Regions from separate parts of the Homo sapiens genome. Here regions 1, 2 and 3 are each reported to be linked to region 4. The links are microRNA targets in miRTarBase. Many come from high-throughput screens and were not tested one by one. Region 4 holds a microRNA gene; each other region holds the end of a gene's coding sequence.
Evidence for each region. The annotated mature microRNA hsa-miR-4480 reads AGCCAAGUGGAAGUUACUUUA and lies in region 4 at 3,539-3,559, opposite strand. An mRNA with a match to its seed (bases 2 to 7 or 8) in the 3' UTR can be bound and repressed. Matches are read on the target gene's strand: a 7mer-m8 pairs with bases 2 to 8, a 7mer-A1 pairs with bases 2 to 7 and ends in A, and an 8mer does both.

Region 1 (7,000 bases), not on the chromosome of region 4:
CACATGGGAATTGTAGGAGTTACAATTCAAGATGAGATTGGGTGGGGACACAGCCAAACCATATCAATCTGATTTCTTTTTGGCTGCCCTTTTGAATTTTGTAACTTGCATATTACTTTCTATAAGAAAAATAAACGTAGGCCGGGTGTGGTGGCTCACGCCTGTAATCCTAGCACTTTGGGAGGCTGAAGCAGGTGGATAACTTGAGGTCAGGAGTTCGAGATTAGCCTAGCCAACATGGCAAAACCGCATCTCTACTAAAAATATAAAAATTAGCTGGGTGTGGTGGCGTGTGCCTGTGATCCCAGCTACTCAGGAGGTTGAGGCAGGAGAATCACTTGAACCCGGGAGGTGGAGGCTGCACTGAGCCGAGACCGCACCACTGCACTCTAGCCTAAGTGACAGCAAGACTTCGTCTCAAAAAAAAAAAAAAAAAGCCCATAAAAACTTATGTTAGAATCTGTCATCTGGGTTAATCAAATAGTGGAGCCAAGCAGAGTAATGGGCTTAATATGGTTTAATGGATTCTCTTTGTTTTGAATTGTTAGCCTCTTAACTAACCAGAACCGTATGTGTTTTTCCTGCATTTGCTCTGACTTAGTCCATGACTTTCATCTGCAGGATGTGTCAGAACTAAGGAATGAATTACAGCGGAAAGATGCACTAGTCCAGAAGCACTTGACAAAGCTGAGGCATTGGCAGCAGGTGCTGGAGGACATCAACGTGCAGCACAAAAAGCCCGCCGACATCCCTCAGGGCTCCTTGGCCTACCTGGAGCAGGCATCTGCCAACATCCCTGCACCTCTGAAGCCAACGTGAGCAAAGGGCAGAGGCAGTTGGCCTATGAGTGGGCTGATGCGTGAGGTTGGCCACACATTCCTTCCTGTGGACTTGACATTTTGGAAGAACTCTTTGCCAGATAATGAGTTCATTTTAGTTTTATGCTCCCATTGAAAAATTTTCCACTATTTTTATAAGCTGTTAATTTCTTGAGTACTTTATAACATGTCTGTAGCTTGGATAAACCAAGTAAGTATTTTTTTTTTGTCTTTAGCAAAGTTTAGACTGTGAATATGATGACACAGATTCTTTTTTATGGTGGCTTTGCTTGTTTTAAATTTTTGCATGACTTTTCATCTTTTTATGTGTGTTTCCTGTAGTTTGATCCGAAGGAAAAGAGTATAGTAGCCTGAGAATCAGGAGATGGGAGTTTTAGTCGTAGGCCTTATGATAATTACCCCGCGGTGGTGTGTAGAAAAGTATGTAAATTTGCTCTGTTTTAAGACTTTGAACTACCTCAAGAAGAGGAATCTAATACAATATTTGTAATGTTTCCAGAGCTCTCAGAATGAGGATTTTTTTGTAAATAGGTCAGAAGACGATGGAACTGTCCTGGGTTAGTATAGTAATCTTACAGTAGGATCCTTAGGTTGATGCTGACTTCTGTTTGGGGTATGTTTATATTTTATGTGGTGTTTACTTTTTTTTTTTGACATAGAAGGATATAGTGGGAGCAGTGATACGCTAACATTCATTACATTCTGCAGTAATGAATCTGTTTAATGGGTCAGTCACTGTTTTCAGTAGCATGACAGTGGGGTCATAGGTGAGCTGTGAGGGGCTAAATCTTGCTCTGATTGTCTCTTTCTGTTTTGAGTTTTGTTTGCGTGTATCATTTTTGTTCTACATTTTGGGAGGGGAAACATTTTCCGTTAAGGAAGGTTGTTGCCAGTGGATTTGACTCCAAGGGACTAGAGTGTCGTGGTGGGGGTGGGGAGGGGCTGCAGGGTGATCATTGGCTACTGAGCCTCCACAGAGAGCATGTGGTGCCCTGCCTTTGGGAGGGTATTTTGCTCTCGTTAGTTTTGTGGGCAGCCTCAGATTCCCTGTTGAGTTGCTGTTAAGAAATGGAGATTTCTGGCTCTCATTGGGTAAGGTTTTCTGAGTTTTATATCTTATTAGATCACATCCCTTTACCCAGAACAAATGCTTCACTGTCTTCTGATTGGCAGTACTCCTGTGGCTTTGTGCCTTGACTCATTTTGTTGTCTTCAGCCTTGAAGGCCCCTTCCCACATGGACTGACATCCACTCATGTGCCTGATCCCTGAAGCCTCCCAGCACCCATTCAGTTGCATCCCCAGGGCACAGGACTTTGATCTCTTCTGTTGCCCTCGCTAGGTTCTCCCTGGTGGGTTAGTGCTTTGTATCTGTCTCTCTGCCCCTCACTAATTCTACACCCATGAGAATTAGACATTATTCTCCTTAAATATATAAGGACCATATAATCTGTATCTTTTTGGTGTGTGTATATGGTATCTGGCACATGGATCTCTGATTACCAGCCTGACATCAACAAATCCCCTCAGTTACAACGTATAGGTTAAACAAAGCTTTTAAAAGCTCATGTGGTATGACCTCAAGGTTGCTAACCTGGTCACTCATGGTAATTAGAAACTCTGATTGGCAGCTTTGTATTTCTTGACTAAAAACCTAAATAAACTGATTAGGTTTTAGGCGTTCTTTCAAAGAGGTTCTTGAGAAGATTGAGAACTATCCTATTTGGTGCTTAGTGAAAAGATTTTGAATTACTGTACGTACCAGTTGTTGCCATTTCTTTATTAAATTCAGAAGTTTTTTTGCCAAATAACAATTTTTCAATCTTCTCTGTTTGTAGACATCTTACTGGGTGATGAATAATCCTCTAAGAAACCCTCTGAGCTGCTAACTTTTTCAGGGAGAAAATCACAAGCCATCTTCTCAAGTTCCCCTAGAAACCTGTGGAATGCCCTCTGCCAAGCACTGCTCTGGTACTGGGGAGTGGAGTATTATGTCTTGGAAGAGACTCCTGCTGTGATTGTCCAGGGGTACGTTCTGGTCTGGCTTGGTGCTTGACCTTAGGTCTGCCCACAGGCTTCAGGCTTTCAACTTTGAAACAAACATCTGTGCCACACACATTTTGTAAATGATCCCATTCAGTCTTCTAGAAGCCTTATAACAGAATCAATATTGTTTTTCCCATTTTCACAGATGGATAATAAATCTGTAAAATAGGGATAAGACTAGGACCTATTCCCCAGGATTACTTCTGCAGATTAAAGGAGATGTTGAGGCCAGGTGCAGTGGCTCACGCCTGTAATCCCAGCACTTTGGGGGGCTGAGGCAGGAGAATCGCTTGAACCTGGGAGGCAGAGGTTGTGATGAGCCAAGATCGTGCCATTGCACTCCATCCTGGGCTACAAGAGTGAAACTCCGTCTCAAAAAAGAAAAAGGAGATGTTGAATGGGAAGTCAGCAAGGGTGCTAGAATGTAGCAAGTATTCTTCAGGTGTTAGTGATTTCTGTTGTTCGGGAAGAGGAGGGTTATGGAGGAAGAGTATGGGATTTAGGTGGGTTAAGTGATTTGCCCAAAGTCAAGAGGTTAGTCTTTAACCTTTGGCAGAAGCAGGATTTGAAGTGAGTTTTCACACCCCTCTTCCCTGGTCAGTGTGTTGATAACAGCCCACCCACCTGTGGTTCCAGGGTGTTCTTAAGAAGCCAAGGTTGTCTTGGGTGTGGTAGCTCTTTGAAAGGTAGAAAGTTCCACCAAGAAGGCCTTTTTTCTTGAATACTGCTTAGCTTCCTTGTCAGGCTCCAAGATGCAGATTGCCTGTGGGCTATCTCTCTCCACAGATAAACCTACTCACATCTTCAGGACAGCCTTTTTTTTTTGAGACAGGAGTCTTGCTCTGTTGCCCAGGCTGTAGTGCAGTGGCACAACGGGGTCCCACAGGCAAGTGCTGGGGAAAGGCCCACCCAGCCATCAGGTAGCCTGTGTGTTCTACAAACAGCAGCTGGCAGCACTGTCTCCTGCCGGACATTCCTGCCACCCGACATCAAAGCTGGTGGGTGACCTTTTCAGCCATTTGACATTCCTCCCAGAAGAACCTCTGCCTCCCAGAGGTTTAAGCAGTTCTCCTGCCTCAGCCTCCCAAGTAGCTGGGCTATTTTTTTTTTTTTTTTTTTGAGATGGAGTCTTGCTCTGTCGCCCGGTTAGAGTGCAGTGGTGCAATCTCGGCTCACTGCAACCTCTGCCTCCCGGGTTCAAGTAATTTTCCTACGTCAGCCTCCCGAGTAGCTGTCAGGTGCACACCACTACACCCAGATAATTTTGTATTTTTAGTAGAGATGGGGTTTCACCATGTTGGTCAGGATGGTCTCAATCTGACCTCGTGATCCGCCTGCCTCTGCCTCCCAAAGGGCTGGGATTACAGGCATGAGCCACCGCGCCCAGCCTTAATTTTTGTATTTTTAATGGAGATGGGGTTTTGCCATGTTGGCCAGGCTGGTCTTGAACTCCTGACCTCAAGTGATCTGTCCGCCTCAGCCTCCCAAAGTACTGAGATTACAGGCATGAGCCACCGTGCCCAGCCCATCTTCATCTTCTTTACTTGAACTTAATTCTTTTTCATGCATCTTCCCTTCTTTCCTCTTTTCTCCTCCACCCAAATGTCTTAACTGTTAACATTCCCAGGTGTTTGGTCCTGGGCCTCTGGAGGTTGTGAAGGAGCACTGCTCAGTCCTCCCTTCAAGAAAGCAGCTTCAAGGAGTTCAATTACAAAAGCTCCTGGCATTGGGGACCTGCCGCCATGTTCCTGCCCAGGGCATGCTGGTCCTGGCTGTCACCAAGCACAGTGGAGGTCAGGTGCTAGGCCATTTCTGCCCGACACAGGCCTCCTCTAATGAGCAGTCTGAGGCCAGGCACAGGAGGCTGAGGCAGGAGAATCGCTTGAACCCAGGAGGTGGACGTTGCAGTGAGCCGAGATCGAGCCACTGCACTCCAGCCTGGGTGACAGAGTAAGACTTCGTCTCAAAAAATAAAAAATAAAAAAATACTGAGCAGTCTGCTTGGGCGCTTCCATCAGCCTGGCCATGACATCTTTGGAGCTGTCCTGCCCTCTTTTGCCCCGGTGTTCCTTGGCCCACCTGTCAGACCTACATCATAGGCTCTTCCTGTCTTCTGTTTCCTCTCCCCTTTCTCTAACATAGGTGTTTCTCCTGAGAAAGAAAAAAACCACCTGTCCCTGACATTCAGAAGCTGACAACACTGTTCGGTCATGCCATTCTCCTGTTGGACATAAACAGTCTCTGAATGCCAACCCCAAAGTTGCTCTCAGGCCATGATAAAATAAACCACTTAATAATTTTGTCTAAGCACGTACAAAGAAAATTCAAGGTCAGTTTACCACTCACAAAATACCAAACATCCTTCTGCTGGTTAAAACGAGTGACAGCTGCCGTGTGTGTGTGTGTGTGTGTGTGTGTGTGTGTGTGTATGTGTATATGCGTATATATGTGTATGTATGTGTGTATATATATATGTGTGTGTGTATATATATATATGCAATTATACCTTTATCCCTACTCTAGTCCACCTTCCTATAAATAAGATGTATTGAGATGCTCAGTGCCCCCATTCTGACAGCATCCAATCGAGTGAATCCTCACTTCCTTGAAATCACCCAACCAGGGCCAGAATCCTAAAAGAGGTTCTTTGTGACACCCTCTGTCTGAGAAGTCCTATGGTTCTCTGTGATGAATAGACCCAACTTGTTCAAATACAGGCATTTCTGGTGGGCTTTGGCTGAAGGCATTCACACCCCCCAGTGAATGTCTTGCACTTCTAATTGTGTCTCGGGGCATGCCTGGTGGAGGACCTGACTGAGACAATTGTGACTGGATGTGGTCTGAGAGCAGGCAGTAGGATGAGGCTTGGGGACTGGCTCACTCACTGCCCAACTGGTAGCAAAACCCATCTGGAGCAGCGTGTGAGGTATGGACACTCACTCACACGAGGGGGTGGCCCAGTTGCTGAGGATTCCACCAGTGGTACCCTGGGAAAATATCCCTGTGGAGGGGAATGGGAGGAGTCAAACTGTGGAAGATAAGAGGAGTACTGCACACAAGGACAGTAGAGTGTCTGTTCCCTGCAGAGGGATAGTGAGGAACTGATGAGGTGACTGTGAGTGCCCGGGGCCTCTGTCGTTATCTTGGAGGATCACTTTGAGGTCAGGAGTTCATGACCAGCCTGGCCAACATGGTGAAACCCTGTCTCTACTAAAAATACATTAATTAGCATGGTGGCGGGTGCCTGTAGTCCCAGCTACTCGGGAGGCTGAGGCAGGAGAATCGCTTGAACCCGGGAGGCCGAGGTTGCAGTGAGCTGAGATGGCGCCACTGCACCCCAGCTTGGGTGACAGAGCAAGACTCCGTCTCAAAAACAAACACACAGTACTGCATCCTGGGGGTGGAGGTGAGGTGACGGTAGAGATCAGTGCTACCCTTGGAAATCTGACAGATACAGTAAGATGGTCCCTATCATAGTTCCATTTAATTTGCCAGCCTCATCTGCAGAATCCAGATGGATCCTGGAGAAAAATTAACCAAGTAGCCTCAATCACAAATGTTGGGTTGGATATTACATCAGTGTTAGAGCAGTTAAGGGCTCAGGTATGTGGTGTGCAGCCATTGACTGGGTGAATCCATTTTTACCTACCCCAATTACAAAACAGTTTGCTTTCATGTGGAACAGATAGTATTCCTTTCAGTTTTGCTGCAGGAACATATTAACTCTTCCACCCCTGTCATAATACAGCCTGAAGAGATTTACCATTAAATACTGTTTTTTTCTCTCTCTTAACTTAATCCCGAATTGGATAATTTCTCTTCATCTTCACTGTCACCTCTACGCCATCACTGTCATCTCTAGACCGCTCTGCTGTTGAGAGATTGATGGAATCATTATGCAAACTAAAATAGAATGTTTTATCTATCAAATTGTATTTCTTTGTCAATAGTGTTAGGGCACAGTAGGTTCATTTACTGCTGGTAAGGGTGTAAATTGTTAGAAACTTTCTGAATGGCAGTTTGGTAATAACAAACAAAAAGCTTAAGTTTGTGTCCTTAAATGCCTTACTTCAATACCCAAGGCATATGGCCTCAATAAAAAATTATGGAAGCATG
Region 2 (7,922 bases), not on the chromosome of region 4:
TCCACATACTGTAGAACATAGGTCATTTGTTGAAGTTGGGTTGACGTGACAGTAGGGTGTTAGGTTGGGTTTAGTCTTTTTCCTAATCCACTACTGCCACTTCTTTGCAAATACACATTTCAGATCGTCCCTACCAAGATTGGCAAAGGGGGTGTGGGAGGGGTGTCATTGAATACACTCTGGACCTTTTCCCACTCTGATCAATGTCCACATTTTTAGGGTGGTGGTCTGTCATCTTTAGTTTGCTTGTAGTTTCTTATTTTAATCACTCAGAATCGTTTCTAGTGTGAAACGTTAAAACAAAACCATAGAATAAACCACACTTGGATATCTTAATTGTGCTTTAAAAAAAAACACACACACACATTTGAGTAAATATTTTTGTATCTGAAATTTTCAAATTTAAGTATATCATACTGTGATTTGGACCAAATTTGCCCCATTCCCCCCTCCCCCCGACTCCCCGATAATTGCAAACACTGGGCTTAGAACACTGCGTTTGTATTTCCTTTTACTGGTTGTGGGTTTCTCTAACAACTTTGTTCCACAACATTAGGGTCAACCAGAAGCAAATAGCTGGATTCTTGGGAAAGAGGAATTTAATCTAGATTTCCTCAATCTCAAGCTTGAAATTTTCTTCAGCACCAAAAGCCCAGGTAGATTTTTAAAGCTTTGTTTTTGGTTGGAGGTGATACCCAGCTTAAGAAAATTTTGACACTGGGTGACCCACCACTAGTTTAATAGTGAAATTACCCTTTATCCATAAATAAACTTTAGAAATATTTTTTCAACACCTGTAATTTTTTTCTCATCTTTAACAGTCACAGTTGCAGATTATATTTCTAGAGCTGAGTCTCAGAGCAGACAAAGAAACCTCCCAAGGGAAACTTTGGCTAAAAACAAGAAAGAAATGGTAAGGAGAATTTAACCTGTAGGTTTTTTTTTTTTTTAATTTTTGGTATGGTTTAGCTTTATTTTTTTACTACTTTTACTGTGTGATCACTTGTTTCCACAAATAGACAATACTATTTTAGTTAAAGACTCTTGAATATGTTCTTGGCCCCAGGTAACTAAAGATATGCATGCTTGAGCCTGAAATACTTTTTAGTTAGAGCTTCAAATAGCATTTATAAAATTCATTCTGCCCAAAGATACTGGGCATAGAGACTATTGCCTAATTCAGGAGCAATAGGCTATATACCTCTTCTCATTGATGGATATAGACCTTTTAAATTTTAGTTCTTTTAAATGCTTTACAGTATTTGATATGTAAATGTGATTTCTCAAAATAAGGTGAGTAAAGTAGGTGATTATTTGTTTAATATTAACTGTTTATGTCATTTTCATGGTGAGCTTTCCAGTGTTTTAAAATTAGGTACAGTTTTCATTAGTTTAGATGTTTTCTGTGGTTTGGGCACTGCTAGGTACTAGAGATACAAAGTTGAAAGACCCATAGAGTGGAATACTTTGTTATTTGTTTTGAATTTTAAAGATGTTTTAATACTTTGATCCATTGTGGTATATAAAACTGAAATTTTTAATTAGCTAATTAGTGTTTATGTAGCTGTTTTCCTCCTCAGCTATAGATTTCATTTATAAAGAAGTTGAAAAAGTTGTCTCCCTTTGGCAGGCAAAAGATGTGATTGAAGAGCATGGTCCTTCAGAAAAGGCAATAAACGGCCCAACTAGTGCTTCTGGCGATGACATTTCTAAGCTACAGCGTACTCCAGGAGAAGAAAAGATTAATACCTTAAAAGAAGAAAACACTCAAGAAGCAGCAGTCCTGAATGGTGTTTCATAAACTGAAGAAGTTCCTAGTTTACAGTTCTTTTACATTACATTTACAATAGTGCTTGTACAAGCTTGCCAAAGATAGAATATGGATCGCCAGTCTTTACATCGCACTTTCAGTTCCTCCATTTGGAATTCAAAAAGGGGAGGGATCCTGAAGAAATCATATGTTAAACATACTTTGACACCTACTGTGTTATAAAATATATCATCAGATGTGCCTTGAGAATAGTATATGTAACATTAAAAAAAAGTTGCTGGCTATAGGAAATGTTATTTTGTTTTCAAAATATGGCAGAGATGGGGGGTGGTGGGTGGGGTGGGATCCCTAACGTAATATTCTTTATGAAAGCATTAGCTGCTTTTGTTACATTTTTAATATGCAACCACTTCTTCACCTGAGGAAAACTAGAATGAAATGCAGTCTAAAATATTTTGCACTGAATTGTAATTTCTTCATTAGTTTAGTCTGGAAACTGGTCTGTTTTAATGTGTTTTTTAAATGCTGTATGTAGAGGAAAATCTGCAGACCACTGGAATACATTTGTTAAACTCTCATCTGCAGGGACACTGGGCGATACTTGGCAGTGACTGTTCTACCTTGAGGCTTTGTTTGGTTTATTTATTAAAGTGTACAGTATTTAAAAATCAAACATAGCTTTAGTTAAAACACTAAGCTGAATTAGTCATGTCCATTCAGACATAACCTGAACTACTGAAAAGATCAATTTCCAGAAGGTTTATTCTGTATAAACTACATGTTAGTCTTCAGTAGAGTATCTTTTTTTTTTCCTTTTTTTTTTTTTTATTTCGGTTGTTTGATGTGCAATATGTTTTTGTATGCAGGTAGTAAATAAACTTTGATCTTCCATTTGCTGAATTTTTTTAACTTTCTACTTTTTACACCAATTGTTGCAAAATAGTTGGAGCTATTAATAGGCTTAGGATAGTATACTTTGCTTTTTAAAAAGCATTTATACTTGCTCATAAATAGCATTAAAATGTCAGTTGGCCATTTAATCATTTTGTAATGAATCATCTGAAATCTTTACACAAGTTTAGGCTGTTAGATGCATAGGTAATTAATAATACATGTGATAATTAGCAAAAAAACCTAACAAAATTCTAATCAAAGGCAACTTTGGAAGACAATGGGGGATAGAAGGGATGACAAGCAATTTTTAAATAATAGGCCAATGATTTGCTTTATTCATTCTCAACTTATTTTGAAGGCTCTCATATCAGTGACCAAAAATCAGTTATTAAACTTTATGTATATATTTTAGCCAGAGCTTAATTTTTATGAAGATAAAGACATGAAGTTTAACAATGGACAACAGTTAGTACAGCTAATTGTGAGGTCAAGTAATTGTTAGACATAGGGGAAGGCTTTGTTCCACAATATTATATGGACCACTGAACAAGAATGACAGCCCTTTGTTATCACTTGGCATATGAAAAGTGTTGTGTGCATAGTTTGTGTTAATTTTTTATGTGCATAAAAATGTGATTTTAATTTATATGCTCTGAAGGATAATTCAGGGTATAGTTAAAAATGTACAATGTGCCAGTTCAGTATATATAACCCTAGCCCTCAAATTATTCTGATTAAGGTTAAAATGTGCTGGTATTACGTGCTTTTTCCTGAGGCCTTCTGATTGGTTCTTGGTAACAGAATTTTAAAGTAAGGTGTGAGTAGTGCAACTCCTGTCCTTTATATATAAAGATATCAAGTAATTTCATGTCCTGATATTTAAAAAAATTACCCACAAATGTGTTTTTTTAAATCGATCAAAGCTAGCAACAGGTTAAATTGTCTCAGTTCTCTTACATAATTGGGTTAAAAATTATAAGGTATTAGAAGAATTTTAATTAATGCCAAATTGGTAAATATGGTGTAAAAAAAAAAAAAAAGACTTTTCATTTTCTCCCACATAGAATAGTCAGATATATTAAACATCCCTTTTCCATAAAGATGGTTTCAATGGGAATGGAAGAAACAAAATCTTAAAAGAGTGAGTATAGCTGAACCAATTCTTCATTCTAGCAATAACCACACTAAGTTCATTACTTTACAAATGACTAAACCCAATGTCTTGTCCTTTAAAAAATATAGGTAGTGCAGAATTGTGATAAATACGCATTTGTTTTTTTAGAGAGCCCCACTCCCCAAAGGGTAGCCATTAATTCAGGTAGCCTTTTAAATGTATTTGAGAGGGTTCCGTCTTTTTGGCTGCTATCCTAGTTAGGTGAGATGTTGCTATGGGAAGAACTTGCCACTATACACTAAACAGACACTTAAGCAAAAGATGTATTCTGGAGCCTGGCACAGTAGCTTATGTCTTTGGTTCTAGCTACTCAGGAGCCTGAGGTGGGAGCATCATTTGAACTCAGTTCTGGGCCACTGAGACCCTCTTTAAAGAGAAGGAAAAAAAGGTATTCTGGAAGATCTTGTGCAGTTGCAACAATGTTTCAGCATATATATGTGAATTCATATATGACACCTGAACGGAATCATGAAGTAACAGCTGAGATTATATGGTGGCAAAAATGACCTGCTTTTCCTGAAGCTTTGGGAGGCCTAGGATTCTTGCTTTAGGCATCACCTTTGTTAAGCCTTAAAGGGGGCTACAACTTGTGCAAAATGGTGTCTCTGGTAACACTTCAGAAATAATTGGCAAAAGTGTAATAGGAATACACAAATCTTTATTTTGAAATAATCTTGTATTTTAATGTGGAATTAGAAGCAGCACATCAAACTGGTGAGTTCACAGAAACTTACCTGAGATGATGCTGGGTTCCATTGCTGTTGTGCTAAGTCACGTATTTTTGTAGCTGCTGTTAGCTGTGTCTAGCGTTTTGTAACCTAAGGAGGGTCTTATAGAAGTTGGTATGTTAACTAAATCTTGGACTGGGAAACAGCACCATTTGTATCCTCTGCAAACAGATTTACGCTTTTGAGGCTCAAACCAACTAGTGTTCTCATGGGCTGTTGCCTAAGGACAGATAAACATGGAAAACAGGCTATGTCCAGGGACAGATGATTGGTGGTTAAGAATTACAGTAAAGGAAAATTACACCTGGATTTTCTTCTGTAAAGTTTCAAGGAACTTGGATTTGAACTGTGAATCTACTGTTTTGGCAAAAAATCTCAAAGAAAAGGATGTTTGTTACTGTCTCAGTCTTCCTGTCTTTGCTACACGATTTGGATCCCTTACGCTTTTTCGTTAAGAATATCTGTCTGCTATAGTGAATTTGCTAGCCCCTTATTTTTTTTTTTAATTTTAGTTCTTTATTAGAACGTGTACTTGAATGGACTGTAGTTGCTCATAACCCATGTTAATCTCTGATAGTATTTGGGTTTTATTTCAGGAGCTTTTGCAATAAAGCAGTAACTGCAATCTGCTAAAGTCAGACTGTTAGCAAGTGGTGTTAAAACTGATTTAAGTCCATTACACTGAACAGTAGGAAATTACCACTTTTGTAAGGCTCAAAAATGATCAACTATTAACAGTTTCTTATGGTTCAGTCTAATTACAAATTTTTAAAAAGTTTATCAGTGTATCATTTCAGATTCATCTGTATCTTCTGTAATATTATTTCCAGTACTGAGGTAAGGTACACAAAAATTCCCCTGGAAAAACTATATTCTAGTTTTGTAAGATGATTTCCCACAGTCCATTTGCTTATTTCTTCCTTTGATAATTCAAAAAGATGCTTTAGGTAATGGTACAGAATTAGAAGCTGCTATTTTAGCTCTATTAACTTTTTCTCTATGGTTTCAATTTTATCCAACCAGAGAGGGCTGGCCTAGTTGGTATCTTTAAGGCCCTTCCAGTAGTAATTTGAGTCTAGTCACATGTCAGACCCTGAGCAACACCTAACCAAATGCCCAAGTATTCTCATAAGGAGTATGCTGAATTTAAGTGGTGTTTGTTTTACATATGTATCCATCCCAGACATTTTCAACTATGCTGAATGCAATCTATAAGATATTCCAAACAAGGACAAAGTAATTTTTCACAAGTCTTACAGCCCCACTATTAAGTATGCTACTAATTAGCTTCTTGAATTTCTTTGTATTTCAGTGATTGGGATGTTCTTTTTTTTTGGGAAAGTTTTTTTACCCCTTTGTACCCTCTTAATTGGATTAACTGTAAAATGTACATATTAATTTTCTAGTTTTAGAGACCATTTTCATTAAAAATATTTTCCAATAGTTTTTCTAGATAAACAATTTATACTTAATTGTTGCTTGGTTGCTTACATTTCAACCTCTAGGCTTCCTTTTTCAGCTAACTTGGCTGTCTTCAGGTTGTAAAGAAAAATGTAAACATATATTTGAAATTTCATTAACTGAAACTGCTGTAAGGTGTTAGCAAATGTTAACCATAACAGATTATCCCATATCATTGGACTGTTCTATTATTGGGTCAGGAATAATAGGTGACACAGGATAGAAGCTCTTCCTATATATATCTTGTTGCTAAGGCAGTAGTTGGCTCTAAGCTGATAAACAGCACACTGTACAGCAGTCCAAAAACTAAAACCAGAGCTTAGGTCATTCAAGTTAACTGGTACTCAAGGTTACTCATTCCAGGATACTTTACATAACCAAAAACCTAGGAGAGCATTCTACATTGTAATTTTTTTTTTACTTTGTTTACATAAAATTTACAGGGTTTTGTTTTTTTAAGCTTAGTCTGTTCTTTGACATTGTTGATTCATGTTCTAAATTTTCATCAGATTTAACATGTTTGGAGGTTCTTGTGCACTCAATGTGAACCTACTACAAGCTTCTGAACTGCAAAACCTTTTTTTTAGGTCACTGTCAACAGAAAGATGCCTTATAGAATTTCTCATGATTGAAACAGAACTCTGCATTCTAACCTAAAACCCCTCTAACCCTTTAAATGAAGCATTATGCCTGCGTGAAATTTTATTTTTAGACATTTCTGATACTAGGTTTTCTTTACGGGGGGGCATACATATTCAGTATACTGAATTTATACAGCTTTCAGTGTGGCAATATATTAAGAAGCTAGTTCCCTAATTTTTCTCAGTTCTCATTGGTTTTCCATTTAAATGTTTCCGTAAGTACTCTCATCATTTGGAAAATACTTGATGGCAGGAGAACTTGCTTAAAACTAAAGGTGGAGAAAGAGTTAACTTCCAGGACAACCCATTATAGCTCACTTCTTACCAACAAAGCAGTTTTTATACAGCACCTTAGGACTCATTTCTAATGTCAACCCAGATGGCCAGTAAAGGCAAGGGAAGAGGCTAAGTGACTCACAAAAATCTCTGATATTGAGGTCTAATGTGAAGGCTATAGATAGGAATTCCCCACAAACTTCTAATGAGGACTAATATGAACAGCAAATTGGAGAAGACACCAAGGACCTAATTTTAGTTTCACTAGCCGTGGGACCTTAGAAAAAAGACCATTTGCTCTGGACTTTTGTTTCCCAAGCCATAAAATGTGGAAGAATCTTCACAATTTCAAGTTGGTCATGTATATTTCCCTTTTACAGAGAAAGCTGAAGCCTCGAGGCTCAGATTTACCTGGCTTCTGTTTACCTGGCTTCTGCAGAAGTTTAACTTGTAACCTACCTCTCATTCCCAAAGTGTGTTTAATCATGCCGCCTTCTTTAAAATATATCTGGAAGCACCAATGAGTAAAGACAAAGGCCCCAAGCTAGATCTGTAGAGATAAGTACTAGACTCACATCTCAGTACTATCAAGGAAAACATGCTTAGGTTATCAGAATTGTGAAGGCCATAGTACAAAAAGTTAAGAGAACGGAACTCAGGATCTGAGAAAGATCAGCCATTCTCAGCATGTTGCCTTGGCTGCTTAACCTTACTAAACTTCCATTTCCTCACATGTAAAATGTACATCATAATAACTAGTCTACTGAGATAAGGGAAGAATACTTAGCACAGTGCTAGTACACTGTAAGTACTCAAATGTTACAGATCCAAGTATTTTGTAAGAAAATACCAGCAAAAGATAAAAGTTTTTTTATGGATCGTATTTGTATCAATCACCTACATGATCTAGAGCCCTCACATGGATAACATTTAAATGTTCAGTTTGCCTAATAGCCTTCAATGAAACACGGATTCTT
Region 3 (7,859 bases), not on the chromosome of region 4:
CAAGGCCAGAGGCCTCAATGACGGGTAACTAACCTGCTCTGCAAAGGCTCAAACTTCAACTTGGAGAAGAAAGGGTCTGTCCACAGTGCTGGGGCAGCTACAAGCAGTAGGACCAGAGAGAAGCTGGGCAGAACTGGCAACATAATTTGCAGGGCCCAGTGCCAAAGGAAAATCATTCGAAAACTGTTTAGAATTTCGAGAGTGACAGCAGAGCATGAAACCAACCTTGGGAACCCTTGTAAGTGTGGGTCACAGGCACATGAAGCCAGCCCTGAAGTGTGGGCTAGGGAAAGCAAGCAGGGGATAAGGCCACAGGAAGGGCAGCCACAGGAGCCTTCTGACCTAATGGTCTGATCAAAATGAAGAGAACCCATAAACACAGGTGGGTAATCCTGAGACACAGCCAGGGCCACACTCAACCATTCCTAGTTGCACCACTGAGGCCTTTGTAGCTCTCCCAATGACCCAGTCCACCCCAGCCAAACAGCATTCTCCAAGAGTCCAGGTCTCGCCCTATTTGGAGGACAGAGGGCATTTAAATTTCATCTCTCTGTGTTGGGGGAGCTCTAAATGCTGGGAAAAGATGTCATGCCTGGAGACCATCTGGGGAAAAGGCCTCCGGAGCTGTTTCTTTAATTTACAGAACTGACAACTGAGGGTAGGGGCCTTTGGCAAGTACAAAGGGTGATGGCCCAGAAAAGAATCAAAGTATTAATAACGGGCTCGGCTGGCACTGGCCTCCTGTCCCCCGCCCTGGGGTTCATGTGGCAGGGAAGCCTGATGTCTCTGTTTCAACAGTGGGATCAAAACTGGCTTTCAGAGCAACATAAGCCAGGGGTAATTTTTAGCACAGACGTAACTTTCTAGTTCCTTTTTCCTACCCCTCATTTTTCGGTTGCCTTTAAAGAGGCCGCAGAGAACTGAAAAACAAATCCAAGTTTAAAGAGACAAGTGCAAAAATGCAAACTGGGCAAGGGGACAGAGCCGCCAGCTGGACAAAATGTGCCTGGAAAACAGCATCCTCTGCTTGGCAGGTGCCAGGAATTTATGGTTGAGTTTTGCAGACGTTTCATCACATTACAAGCCAGCTCAGGAGACCCTCATAAAACTCTGCTTATATGAAAGAACAAACTAGCTGATAAAAGTCAGCTGTTGCCTATAAACGCACTGTGGGAATTGCAATTGAGTAGCGGATTTATTAGTCTGGGCTCTCTGTGCAAATTAAGAACTGCTCCACACGTTTCAATCAGAAGAGATGAGCCAGAGCAGAAAGGGTTGCTCCCCGCTCACATGATGGCCAGCAGGCCAGGCTGACCCCCACCCCCATCACTTACTCTACTAGAGACCAGAGGGAAGACTCTCACTGAAATTAAGTCACAGAGGAGCTAGTCTCACATTCCCCTATCTCGCCTCCCACAAAAACCCACAAAAACAATCAGTCACTCTCTCCATCCACTGCATTCCCCACACATCCTTCACAATAGCACTTCTCACGAAGAGCTTGCAGATCTGCCTGGCCTACTAAATCATGGACTTCTTTGATTTACCTCTGTATTGCTAATGATGAGTTCTGTGCTGGGCACACTGGGAGGCCTCAGAATGAATGGATATGGATGCGACAGACTCTAAAGCCCCATATACATAAGTTATGACTATCCCACCCCAAACAGCATGGAGGGGCCAGGGGAGCAATGCCGAGGTACCCATTGGACTTGAGGACTGGCAACAAAAAGGGGAAAAGAGGTGCAGTGAGGGAGTTATGAAGGCGTTTCTTCCCCAGAGAAGTGCGGTCTTTGTGGCTAGTCTACCCAGCCATCAATCTCTGTGCTAACTGCTGCCTTTTCTCAGGATGAAGGCTCTTTCTTAAGGAATGACTCTGCAACTGAACTAAGGGTACTTATTAAGGATGCAGATATCTAGCCCCTCCCCACACATACTAGACCAGAATCTCTGGGCTGGGGCCCTACAGTCTCGGAAAAATGACTTTGCTCTACGTGGAAACCAAGAAGGAGCCTTCCAGGAAGGATGGGGAGGAGGACAGTGCCTGGAAGGGGTACCCCTGTCATTCCTTCAGAATCACTGGCTTTCTCCTACCAGGCCCTGGCATCAAAGGCAAAAGTGTAGGACTCTGGTAGACCACGCCAGGATTTGCTCCAACCCTCTTGGCTATGGGGTCAGAAGGAAGGGTAACTGGCAAGGTTGCGGCTGTCCTGGAAGAGGCTTGGATACTTCATGTGCCACGGCCAAGTTGGATGGAGGTAGCTCTGCACTGCAGGATCCATGTCCTGTGCAGGGCTGGGTATCAGAAAACCTCACCCTTGTTACAGCTGAGTAGATGTTAGGCATGCTCTTGCCTTCTGTGGCAGAAAGGCAACAGTGATGTGGGGGAAAGCACCTTTCACCGGAACCAAGCAAGCCCTGGTGCAAATTCTGGCAACATTACTGACAAGCTGTGGGCATTTAGAAAGCTTACCAGGTCTCTGTCTCGGTCTCCTCATCTACCTAATGGAAGTAAGCATACTTGTTTCAATTCTCGTTGAGGGTTTAGAAAGATATTAAAGAGCCTAGCACAGAGCTATACACTTAGTGAGTGACTAATAAAGCTTAAGTGAATTTCAATCCCTTAAATGCTCACAAATGTACCCAAAGCCCTCACTATCTCCTCTCGCTTAAACCTTACAACCCTGTAAGGACATATCATCACTTCCACTATACAGATGAGGAAATAGACTTAGAGGAAATTACTTGCCCAAGATCACACAGCTGGCTAAAGGCTGAGCCTGAGACTTGAACCCAGGTCTAGGTTCCTTCCTTCCCCTCATCCCCAAACCTGCTCCCTGAAATGTGCACTCTTCCTCCCTTCTCATAGGGAAATGGAATTATAAATGATCCAGTGTTTGAGCAGGTTGGGAAGGTACCTGGCTTCTCGTCCCAATTAAAGTCTGGTGTAATACAGTCCCCATAAAGCCCAGGCTCTCCTTGGGCAAGCAGGAGACCTTCTCTTTAGGGCCCAGGCACCCCAGCACCTTGAGACAACACTTACTCTGAGAGAAGAATCTGAAGGTCAGTTTCTAGATGTGGATGGGGAGGGACAGGATAGAGGGAAACCAAAATTCTTCATTTCATCCCAAGACTGTCTTACACTGACAGAGAAAGGGGTTCTGACCCAGCTGAGGGAAAACAGAACAGAACTCACATTGGTGTCTTCATCCATAAGCCAGTGGCATACATAAAGGAGGAGCACCAGAAGTATTCCCAGTGTGGTGACTCTCCCTGAATTCGTTTATCAATTTAGTGATTCTAGTAAAAAATACTGACAATTTATTTTTTGTTGTTGGAAGGTGATGGGGTTAGCTAAATGGAAAATTCCAGGTGGTGGAGGGGAGGCCTAATGAACAAGAGTGGGAGTACAGGCGGGTTGCTACTATAAAAACCAATAGGTATTAAGACTTTGGAAACAAATGTCCACCCTAAGGAGCTATTTTAAGTAAATTATGGTTTACCCACACAACAGAAATCTATGCAACTGTTTAAAACAATGTAAGGAAGCTCTTTATATAGAATGAACTCCAAGATACGGTAAGAAAGAACAAGGTGCAAAAGTGGGTATATGGTATGTTAGCATTTATATAAAAATGAAGGGAGGTTTTTTTGTTGTAGTGATTATCTATCGCTGTGGAACAAATGGCCCCCAAACTTAGTGATTTAAAACATTTATTATCCCAGTTTACATGGATCAGGAATCCGGGCACTGCTTAGCTGGCTGCCTTTGGGTCGGGTCTTCAAGAGGCTGTAGTCAAGCTGTCAGCAGGGGCTGTGGACCCATCAGAAGGTTCAACTGTGGGAGGGAGGATCTGTTTCCAAGTTCAGTCACATGGTTGTTGGCAGGCATTGGTCTCTCACATGAGCCTCTCCACATGGCTGCCTCACAGCATCGCAGCTGCCTTTCCCCAGGGTGGGTGATCCCAGAGAGAGAGAGAGAGAGAGCACCCAAGATGGAAGCTGCAGTCTTTTTTACCTATTTCAGAAGTGACATCCTACCACTTGGGTAGTATTTTATTCATCAGAAGTATATCTGTGGCCGGGCGCGGTGGCTCACGCCTGTAATCCCAGCACTTTGGGAGACCAAGGGGGGCAGATCACAAGGTCAAGAGATCGAGACCATCTTGGCCAACATGGTGAAACCCTGTCTCTAACTAAAAAATACAAAAATTAGCTGAGCGTGGTGGCACATGTCTGTAGTCCCAGCTACTCGGGAGGCTGAGGCAGGAGAATCGCTTGAAGCCGGGAGGTGGAGATTGCAGTGAGCCAAGATCACGCCACTGCACTCCAGCCTGGTGACAGAGCGAGACTCTGTCTCAAAAAAAAAAAAAAAAAGAAGTATATCTGTCAGTCCAGCCCATCTGGAAGGAGAGGGGAGTACACAAGGGCAAGAATACCAGAGGTGGGAGCACTGGGGGCTGTCTTTGAGGATACCTACCCACCACACTCACACAGGCATAGTATTTTTGGAAAGATACACTAGAAACATTCAATATTGGTTGCCTTCAGGGAAGGGAATTGGGAAACTCCCACCTCAGCCTCGCAGATAGCTAGGACTACAGGCACACACCACCACACCTGGCTCTTTTTTTCATAAAGACAGGGTTGTCTGGCTAGTCTAAACTCCTGACCTCAAGCCATCCTCCCACCTTGGCCTCCCAAAGTGCTCGTACAGGCAAGAGCCATTGTGCCCAGCCTAAATATGCTCTTGCATACCTATTTTACAATATTGATATATCACTTAAAAAATAAATCAGGCTTGGTGTGGTGGCTCATGCCTGTAATCCCAGCACTTTGGGAGGCCGAGGCAGGCAGATCACTTGAGGTCAGGATTTGGAGACCAGCTTGGCCAACATGGCGAGACCTTGTCTCTATTAAAAATACAAAAATTAGGCAGGCATGGTGGTAAGCACCTGTAATCCCAGCTACTCTGGAGGCTGAGGCAGGAGAATCGCTTGAACTTGGGAGGCAGAGGTTGCAGTGAGCTGAGATTGTGCCTCTGCACTCCAGCCTGGGTGGGAGTGAGACTCTGTCTCAAAAAAATAAATTTTATTTTAAATTTAAAAAGAACAATGAAAAATATGGCATTTTAACAGACACAAAGCTAAGAGGGAACAAAATAAAAACAATACTTAAATACTATATAGTTATTACTGAGCACCATAAACGTGCTTGTTTCTACTTAGCCATTACTTGCTTCTATGAGGGAGGTTTAAAAACCTCTTTATTACACATGCATACACATAAGCGAGCATCTCCCACTTGTAGAGCAAAATACAAACGCTTGAGCTGGGACTCATAATCCTCTTCACAATTTGGTTCCAGTCCACCCTTACTGACCCACTTCCTGCCATCCTTCTATCCATCTGTGAACTTGTTATTTGTGATACTGAACTATTATTTGCCAGTTGTGGAGGGTAAAGGCAACAAGCACAATGCCTGGCACACAGCTAGCTTTCGTCAAGTGTTGGCTTCCATCCTGCCTCAAACATGGCCTTTGTTTAGATTATCCCCTGTGCATGGAATGCCCCGCACCCCTCTCCTAGCCCCAGGTAAAATTCCCTTCAAGGCCTACCTCAAATGTCACTGTCATCAAGAAGGAGTTCCACAGGCAATTAGTTATCATCTCTATTCTCCCACAGCACCTGTTTTTACCTTAACTATAACACTTTTATTATTGTATTACAACTTAAGTCTCTGCAATCCAAAGTCTGGTCCTTGGACCATTAGCTGAGACTTCGTTTGAAATGCAGAATCTGGGCCCCATCCCAGACCTACAGAATCAGAATCCAAATTTTAACAAGATATCAGTGACTTATTTGCACATTAATCTTTCCCTGGTGGAACTGTGAGCCTTTCTAGGGCTCTCTTTTATTTCTGTCCCCAGAGCCCAACATAAGACTTGACACTTAAATGCTTTTTAAGTTTTATTTGCAATACTTATATGATAGATGTTTTTTAATTCCTGGAAAAATAAATACACATTATTAATAATAGTTATCTGGTAGATGGATAACGGTACATTTCTATGTAACATTTTCATTTTTTGTAATCAGAATGTATTACCTTTACAGATAGGCAAACACAAAGATTTGGGAAAATGCATGTAAAATCTAAGAAAAAAGGTAAATTGTAGATATAATACATTCACAAAAAGAATATAACTGTGTTGAGCTATATTTACAGATATAAAAAGATGAACAAATTACATTAGGTTTTTTAAAAAAAGACAACCTAACAGTATGTATCGATGATAGCACGTTTGTTCTTTAAAAAAATTTGTGAATTGGTCAGGAGCAGTGGCTCATGCCTGTATTTCCAATATTTTGGGAGGCTATGGTGGGAGGATCCCTTGAGCTCAGGAGTGAGCTGGGCAATATAGTGAGACCCTATCTATATTAAAAGAAAAAATTTGTAAATAGACACTGAAAAGGTATCTATCAAAATATCTCTAATGAAGTTTGTTTTACAATTTTCTACATTTTACATTTTTTCTAGTTTTCCTATGATCTTTATAAAAGCTTATCACTTATAAGAAAAAAAGTTATTTTCATTTTTGAAAAATATCTATACCCTTTACTAAGTCCCTTTACATTCAATGACCAAGATTCCCACAACACTCTGGGAAGCTGAAAGATCTGAAAGTAACACGGCCATTACATAGATGAAGGCAGCAGACCTTGGAAATGTAACCCCGATGGACTGACTCTGGGCTGGCATTCTCCCACCCCTGCGGCTACTCCAGACTCAGAGGAATGTGGCAAGTCAGATGCCAGCTTTGGCCAAAAAAACTCCTGTCATTTTAGGAGTCTCACCATGCCCAGTTACTTCCTCTGAGATGGTAACAGCAATAGGGGAACACTTCAAAGACAAAGCATTCAGAATGATTCATGCTGCACCACCTCCCCCTGGTGGCAGGTTCTGGAAATTGGCTTGAGGATAACTATTGCAATTGGTCAAAATTTTTAAAATATATTTTCTGTCAAAATCACCCTTATTTCTTTAAATCATCAAAACCACTTTTTCTTTTGTCAAGGATTCAGGTATTGACAAAAGACACAAAACCAGGACCTGGTGTCAACCAGACAATGCTTTGGATGATGCCAAGGGCAGTGTGGCTCTTTGCCTCTTGTCCTTGCTTCCCCACCTCTTTAGGTCCACAATAGAGGAAAGACACTATGTTCTTCAGCACCGTCTTTCCTGTTGTCTCTCTAGCTCCATCCACTTCCCTGAGCCTCAGAAAAGGGCAAGGCATGGCTCACATACTCTCAGCCACGGCCTGGCATGCTGCAGCTCCAAAATCAGACATCTAGGCGCTAATCCTCCCCAAGACCCAGTCCTAAGGTTCAAGGCACTGATGTTTCAAATATGTCAGACTGAAATACTGACGTTTCTTTAGAAACATCAGGGTTCAGAATGTCAGTCTTCAACTGTGGTACCCGTGGTCTCCAGATACGCATAGCTTCCTTACTCTTCCAGGAAGAAGGAAACATTCAATAGGATATCTGAAATAGGAAGACAGAAAAAATGGCATTATCACCTCTCCCGAGAACATAAAACACACAGAGGCACAGCAAGGGCACCTTCCTAATGCTTCCAAAGAGGCGAGCCACAGGGAGAGAAAGGAGGAGAGGAGACACAAAGGAAGAACACAAACCAGTACCTTGTACAAGATCTTGGTGTTCGTCTTTTGAAATTCGGTCCCAGGCCTTGGGCAAAGCTTGTATGTTTGCCAAGTCTCCCCACTGGATAGACGAAAGAAGATACTTTCTCTTCAGGTACCTTTCTGGAAGTTAAGGACTGCTCAAAAGAAAATG
Region 4 (7,922 bases):
AAGACTAAGAAAAAGGAATAAATCTGGAGGCATCATTTTATCTGACTTCAAACTATACTATAAGGCCATAGTCACCCAAACAGCATGGTACTGGTATAAAAATAGGCACATAGACCAATGAAACAGAATAGAAAACCCAGAAATAAAGCCAAATACTTACAGCCACTGATCTTCGACAAAGCTAACAAAAACATAAAGTGGGGAAATGACAGCCTATTCAACAAATGTGCTAGGATAATTGGTTAGCCACATGTAGAAGAATGAAACTAGATCCTCATCCCTCGCTTTATACAAAAATCAACTCAAGATGGATCAAGGACTCACATCTAAGACCTGAAACCATAAAAATTCTAGAAAATAACATCAAAAAAACCCCTCTAGACATTGGCTTAAGCAAAGACTTCATGAGCAAGAACCCAAAAGCAAATGCAACAAAAACAAAGATAAATAGATGGGACTTGATTAAACTAAAAAGCTTCTGCTCAGTAAAAGAAATAATCAGCAGAGTAAACAGACAACCCTCAGAGTGGGAGAAAAGCTTCACCATCTATACATCTTACAAAGGACTAAAATCCAGAATCTGCAAGGAACTCAAACAAATCAGCAACAAAGAAATACAATCCCATCAAAAAGTGGGCTAAGGACATGAATAGACAATTCTCAAAAGAAGGTATACAAATGGCCAACAAACATAGGAAAAAAATGTTCAATATCATTAATGATCAGGGAAATGTAAATCAAAACCACAGTGTGATACCACTTCACTCCTGCAAGAATGGCCATAATCAAAAAATCAAAAAACAGTAGATGTTGGTGGGGATGCGGTGAAAAGGGAACACTTCTACACTGCTGGTGGAAATGTAAACAAGTAAAACCGCTATGGAAAACAGTGTGGAGATTCCCTGAACAACTAAAAGTAGATCTACTGTTTGATCCAGCAATCCCACTACTGGATATCTACCCAGAAAAAAAGAAGTCATTGTACAAAAAACATACTTGCACATGCATGTTTATAGCAGCACAATTCACAATTGCAAAAATATGGAACCAGCTCAAATGCCCATCAATCAACGAGTGGATAAGGAAATCGTGGTATATATATACCATGGAATACTACTCAGCCATAAAAAGGAATGAAATAATGGCATTTGCAGCAACCTGGATGGAACTGGAGACCATAATACTAAGTGAAGTAACTCAGGAATGGAAAACCAAACATCGTATGTTCTCACTCATAAGTGGGAGCTAAGCTATGAGGATGCAAAGGCATAAGAATGACACAATGGACTCTGGAGACTTGGGGGAAAGGGTGGGGATGGGTAAGGGATAAAACACTGCACACTGGGTACAGTGTACACTGCTCAGATGATGGGTGCACCAAAATCTCAGAAATCACCACTAAAGAACTTATTCATGTAGCCAAACACCACCTGTTCCCCCAAACCTATGAAAATAAAATAAAGGAAAAAAGCACAATGCCCCCACAGAATGCTGGCCATTCAACACAATAATAAATATATGTTAGCTGATGTCAGTTGTTCAATTTCTCCAGGTAAAATAATACTTTTCAAAACAATACACACATTTCCCAGAACCTAATTTCCCACCATTGGCCATTCCTGGGGTTCCCCATAGGACCCTCTCCACACACTCCTGCATTCTTCTTAGGCTGGGGTCCATATGAACAGGATGTGGTTCTCCATGACTTCTGTTTTTCTCTTTCTAGTGGGGCTTAAATGGTACAATCTTTTATGATTTACATTCCATTTTTCAAGTACAAAGTGAAGTTTCTTCTAGTTAATAAGTCCTGTTTGAAGAGTAAGAGTTCTGCATACAAAGTACATGTTTCACTCTCATCGGAAACCAAGTTCTCAGAGGAGTTAATCTGTAGCTAATTCAACAATTGCAGAGTCACTAGCTTTGTACACCAAATACTGTCACCCGGGAGACAAGGGGTGAGAAACAGCAGGCTCCAGTCTCCCATTAAAGCTATATTAAAAAAAAAAAAAAAAAAAAGGAAGGAAGGGAGGGAGGGGCATATTTTAGTCCAGATACATTGGTACAGCCTAGATGCCCAATTCCTAAACATCTGTTAGTGAAACTAGTTACAGATGATGTTGACGAGCAAATCGTAGCCTTAAGAATTATCTCAAGACAGGACAGATCTGGCTCACACAGCCAGGTCTGAATGACTAACCCTTTAGGAAACCTCTCACCAGGGAATTCTGGCTGTGCCGAAAGGCCCTGCGAGGTTCCACAGAGCAGTATTTTCCTCCCCAGAGGAGATGGCATCATGGGTTTTCTGCTGAAGGAAAAACGCCCCAGTGGAGGCCAAGGGAAAAAGCTTAGAGCAGACACTCTCCTAAAGGATTCCACCCTGGCTGAGAGTGGACACTTTTCTAAAGAATTCCACCTGAGCCAGGGCAACAAGCAGGTTCAAAACTGGCTTTTGAAACTCAAAGCCACTCCGTGAATCTCCAACCTATCTTGGTGGGAACTCATGGAGACAGATCCAGAGAAGAGATCCGACCTCTCGCTTAAGAAGTGTGAACCATGACAAGGGTGGTGCAGCCCACGGTCCCCATCACAGTGAAGGCATCTAAGAGCACAGAGAGACAATTGTGACTGGTCTGGTCCGGAAGGCTTCATGTTTGCGTAACACTGGAGCGAGCTTGAGAGATGGTCAAGATTTTTGACAGGTAGGGAAAGAAAAGGGTACAGGGAAAAAGAGTAGTAGATGGAGAGAAGAGAAAGTTATTTTTGTTTGCTCCAGTGGGAAGAGACAGACACATCATGAAAGATCCAGCAGGAAACACAGACTGACCCCCAAATACAGAAGGCCTGGAGCACCAGACTCAATGGTCTGACCACATTCCAAAGGCAATGGAGAGCCACTCTTTAATGGAGAGAACAAGATGATCAAAGAAAGCTACATGATTAAATTGGCTTAAGTAATACATGATGGATGAGAAGAAGTGGAGAGAAAAGGCTGCTGCAACTGTCCAGAGATAAGGCCACGGGGCCCAACACAGGATTCAGAAGAAGGAAAGGAAAGGAAGGGAAAGATATGAGGAATGCTATGCAGGACTCTGTAACTGCAGACCCAGGAAGTGGAACAAGAAGAGGAATGCTCCCCTCATCCTGCATCAGCCACGATGCTGTTCCCTGCCCATACCATGCTGTTCCACACCCACAGCCTCACTCAGGCGCCTTCCGAGGACTCCTCGCGCTCCCACACCCACCCAGCCAATTGTTTCTTGCTCTTTGAAGCTCTGTTCAATTTCTCGGTGAAAGCCCCTTCCCTGGAGCAGACACACTTCCCTATGCCCTTGAAGCATATGGCACTTCTTAAAGGGCTGCTGTCTTCTGCTCGTGCCTCTGGGCACCCACTAGACTGCACATTCCCCAGCACAGGGCTCATGTGCTATGCGTCTCTACCCACCGTGTTCACATAGCACCTGAAAACAGTCAATCGAGTGTAGAGCTTCAGCTTGTTGTCTCTAAAGTCAAACTGAACTGGTGCAAATCATCACAGAGGTAAAGTAACTTCCACTTGGCTACTTACTCCCTGGGTGGCCCTGTGGAGGTCAACTCACCTCTGCAATGGTCAGGTTTCTCAGCTGTTAAAAGTGGGTCATCGGTCTCGGTGCAGTGGCTCATGCTTGTAATCCCAGCACTTTGGGAAACTGAGACAGAAGTATTGCTGGAGCCCAGAAGTTCAAGACCAGACTGGGCAAACTAGAGAGACTACATCTCATCTCTACAAAACTTTTTTTTTTTTTTTGAGATGGAGTTTAGCTCTTGTTGCCCAGGCTGGAGTGCAATGGCACGATCTCGGCTCATAGCAACCTCCGCCTCCCGGGTTCAAGCGATTCTCCTGCCTCAGCCTCTCGAGTAGCTAGGATTACAGGGATGCACCACCACGCCCAACTAATTTTGTATTTTTAGTAGAGACGGGGTTTCTCCATGTTGGTCAGGCTGGTCTCGAACTCCTGACCTCAGGTGATCCATCCGCCTAAGCCTCCCCAAGTGCTGGCTGCCTAAGCCTTCCAAAGTCCTGGGATTACAGGCGTGAGCCACTGTGCCCAGCCCTACAAAACATTTTTTAAAAAATTAGCCAGGCAAGGTGGTGCATGCCTGTAGTCCCAGCTACTTGGAAGGCTGAGGTGAGAGGATCGCTTGGGCCCGGGAGGTCGAGGCTGCAGTGAGCCATGATGGTGCCATTACACTCCAGCCTGGGCAATAGTGCAAGACCCTGTCTAAAAATAAATAAATAAATAAAAAGCAGACTATCACAATACCTTCCGTGCAGAGTTGCTGTGAGGATGTAAGATAATGCAAATATAAACGCTGGCAGCTGTGCTTGCCTAATAAATGTTAGCCAATATTACTGTTAGCATTGAATACCAATTTGTTGACTGCATGGATGATTGGATGAATAGGTGGAGATTCCATCTTTGATTTTTTACGTAGATAACTGGGATCCTGGGAATGACATTAGCAAAGGTAACAAGGAGGACACCACGTGGGTGGGGAAGGAGGAAAATGGGCATAATCTTGGAGGGGCTGAGTTAACGATGTCAGCCAAGCATCATACCCCGTTATGGGGCATTGGCCGGAGTGGGGTTTAGGTCTCCAGAAGTCTCATGAATAGAACCCCTAAGACAATCTGTAGCAGGAAGAGGGAGTGAACCAATCGAGAACTGGTGGCTTAGCAGCAAAATACAGACAACAAAAGAGAAAGACAGAGACTTTTTGAAAACAAAAAAAAATCTCCTATTTGATCATTCCGAAATAGCCATGATATAGTAATAATGGCAGAAACAGAACTTTGTTGGATCTCTTTACATTTATTATATGGTTTAAAATGCTTAATTTAGTTCTTTAAATAAAGAAGAAAAGCAATGTGCTCTGCAATGTTTCAGTGCTTTGGGCCTGTAACGATCTGAATCCAGAACTGGGTAGATCCAGGCTGGAGGCCTAGAGGGAGAGGTCAGATTCAGAACTGGAGGTGGCAGGTGTTAATCCACCAAAGGGCTGGAGGCATAGTTCCTAGTGAGAGACCTGCAAGCCTAGAGCTGGAACTGGGCTGGGAACCCAACACGGCGACATACAGAACCAGCCAGGAATTTTCGCTGTGTGTCCGGGGACCTCCCCTGGGCTTGTCCTGGCTTGTGTTATTGGCCGGGGGGACTGCAGCATACATGGGTGAGTGACCAGAGGGCTTCAGCATACAGAGTCAAGGTGGCCGTCACCTCCTGCAAGTGCCCCAGCCTGGCACATATTAACAAAGGCATCCCAGTCCGTGCTAGAAACCAAGATGCACGTGAAAGTGTTCTGGAACTGGTTCCACGGCCTCTCTCCACCCCTTTCCCCAGGCTGGGTTTTGGGGCTCTGTGTCACTCGCAGAGATGTGGTTCCTTTTCTGCCAGACACTCCAGCTCTCCATTCTGAGATAGACGGCATGCAGGTGTGCTCACTGACTGACATGCACAGGACCAAGCCAGACACCAGCATGGATTTGTCTACAAAGCTCTAGAAATACAGAGCCGAGTCTCCAGAACGGCAGTACCAGGCCGTGGAACCGGGCCGCACACCAGGAAGGTGAGTGGTAGGCAAGTGAGCATTCCCGCCTGAGCTCTGCCTCTTGTCAGATCATTGGTGGCAAAAGATTCTCATAGGAGCATGAACCCTATTGTGAACTGTGTATGCAAGGAACCTAGGTTGTGTGTTCCTTATGAAAATCTAATGCCTGATGATCTGTCACCATCTCCCATCACCCCCAAGTAGGACCATCTAGTTACAGGAAAACAAGCTCAGGGCTCCCACTGATGCTACATCATGGTGAGTTGTAGAATTATTTCATTATATATTATAATGTAATAATAATAAAAATAAAGTACACAATAAATGTAATGCACATGAATCATCCTGATATCATCACCCTCCCCCTCCTCCGGTCAGTGGAAAAACTGTCATCCATGTAGGCAATCCCTGGTTCCAAGAGGGTTGGGGACCACTGCTCTAGAATAATAGTCTCCAAACTGTGTTAACTATGTGCCCCCTTCAGTACAAAATACTCAGGTACAAAACCCCCAAAATAGATACATTAATTTATAAATTATAACAGAGATACCACTGCACTCATATCTTATGTAAATTTAAAACTTACACAGCCTTAAAACTTTAAATAATTCGATCAAAGAAACAACATAAATAAACTATTTTACTTAGGAACAATGCAGTTCACATTTTTGCTTTCACTAGAAAAATGTTATGAATAAGAGAGTATTTTAAGTGAGATCAATGAAACTGAATATTTCATTTGTATTTGTATTGTTACTAAATTGTTTTATCCTTGTAACATGACTGACAAAGAACTCCCAGGAGCAGAAATCTGAGCTCTTTCATTATCCTCTTGTGTGCTTGCGCTTGCATTTTTAATATTATCTTCAAGCCATGGTTTCCTTCCAGGAATCTTCTTAAATTCTTGGTCTATTTTGTGAAGGTTGGTTTAGGTAACACTAGGGGATACAACCCACAAATCCATTTAACCAGCCACATGCAAACCACCACTGTCTTCTTAAGCTCAAGGCAGAGGAGCGCGAATTCTTGGGGGGTCCACGGGTCCCTGGGAATGAGTCACAGGCTTGTGACTGTCTGCCTGACAAACTGTCAATCCAAAACAATACTCATGATTCTTAACTTCCTCCTCATTCTAAAAGATCAAATTATAAGTGGAAGTGCTACCATTTTCTTTCTGCATCCCAATGGACCATCTTGTCTACCCACTTTGGAGACCACTGCTTTAGAGAGACATGAAGGCTGGAGATTTTGCCCTGGACGTCCTCCAAATTAAAGTGAGAGACAAACCAAGGGGGATTCCAGAGATGGACATTTGGAAAGCAAAGGAGACAGGATATCAAATTGTTTTAAATGTCCCCAGCTAAGAAACAGGAGTGATGGCTGGGTGTGGTGGCTCACACCTGTAATCCCAGCACCTTAGGAGGCCAAGGCGGGTGGATCACAAGGTCAGGAGTTCAAGATCAGCCTGGCCAACATGGTGAAACCCCATCTCTACTAAAAATATAAAAATTAGCCGGGCCCGGTGGCAGGACCCTGTAATCTCAGCTACTTGCGAGGCTGAGGCAGGAGAATCGCTTGAACCTGGGCAGCAGAGGTTGCAGTGAGCCAAGATCGTGCCACTACGCTACAGCCTGGGCAACAGAGTGAGACTCCATCTCAAAAAATAAAAAGAAAAAGAAAAAAGAAAAAAATAGGAGTGATAGGGGTTGGATCCGTGTCCTCACCAAATCTCATGTTGGATTGTGGTCCCCAGTGTTGGAGGTGGGGCCTGGTGGGAGGTGATTGGATCATGGAGGGCGGTTTCTCATGAATGGTTCTGCACCATGCCACTGGTGTTGTTCTCCTCATAGTGAGTTCTCGTGAGATCTGGTTGTTAGAAGCGTGCAGCATCTCCTCCTTCACTCACGCTCCGGCTCCTGCTCCTGAGGAGCATGTGAGACACTTTGCTCCTCCTTCTGCCATGATTGGAAGCTTTCTGAGGCATCCCCAGAAGCAGAAGCCTCTATGTTTGCAGTACAGCCTGCAGAACCATGAACCAATTAAACATCTTTTCTTATAAGTTACCCAGTCTCAGGTAGTTCTTTATAGCAGTGTGAGAACAGACTAACACGAGGAGGAAGAAGTCAGCAAAGGAGGTAAGAAAGAATCCCAGGCCAGATGCAGTGGCTCACACCTATAATCCCAGCACTTTAGGAGGCCAAGGTGGGTGGATCACTTGAGGCCAGGAGTTCAAGACCAGCCTGGGCAACATGGCGAAGCCCCGTCTCTACTAAAAAAAAAAAAAAAAAAAAAAAAAAAAATTAGCTAGGCGTGGTGGTGTGCACCTGTAATCCCAG

Region 1: the mRNA of MED28 is a reported target of hsa-miR-4480. The part of its 3' UTR that is shown has no 7-base or 8-base seed match.
Region 2: miRTarBase lists FXR1 as a target of hsa-miR-4480. Seed matches in the 3' UTR shown: 8mer at 2,371-2,378, 8mer at 3,237-3,244 and 7mer-m8 at 6,090-6,096.
Region 3: miRTarBase lists AIRIM as a target of hsa-miR-4480. Seed matches in the 3' UTR shown: 7mer-A1 at 7,144-7,150.

The regions. Positions count from the first base shown.
Region 1 is chr4:17,622,980-17,629,979 of GRCh38, forward strand. It overlaps MED28 (mediator complex subunit 28), which reads left to right. Exons shown (of 4, transcript NM_025205.5): 4 at 622-7,000. The coding sequence ends at 819. FAM184B (family with sequence similarity 184 member B) reads right to left here. Exons shown (of 18, transcript NM_015688.2): 18 at 6,327-7,000. Among named protein-coding and RNA genes, the nearest start is that of MED28, 12 kb to the left of the region's middle.
Region 2 is chr3:180,974,492-180,982,413 of GRCh38, forward strand. It overlaps FXR1 (FMR1 autosomal homolog 1), which reads left to right. Exons shown (of 17, transcript NM_005087.4): 16 at 822-913; 17 at 1,631-7,922. The coding sequence ends at 1,801. Among named protein-coding and RNA genes, the nearest start is that of DNAJC19, 11 kb to the right of the region's middle.
Region 3 is chr1:37,675,614-37,683,472 of GRCh38, forward strand. It overlaps AIRIM (AFG2 interacting ribosome maturation factor), which reads right to left. Exons shown (of 5, transcript NM_001350770.2): 4 at 7,706-7,824; 5 at 5,957-7,547. The coding sequence ends at 7,510. Among named protein-coding and RNA genes, the nearest start is that of AIRIM, 11 kb to the right of the region's middle.
Region 4 is chr10:12,574,433-12,582,354 of GRCh38, reverse strand. It overlaps MIR4480 (microRNA 4480), which reads right to left and starts at 3,602; the gene lies at 3,532-3,602. All of the region lies in intron 2 of CAMK1D (calcium/calmodulin dependent protein kinase ID), which reads right to left.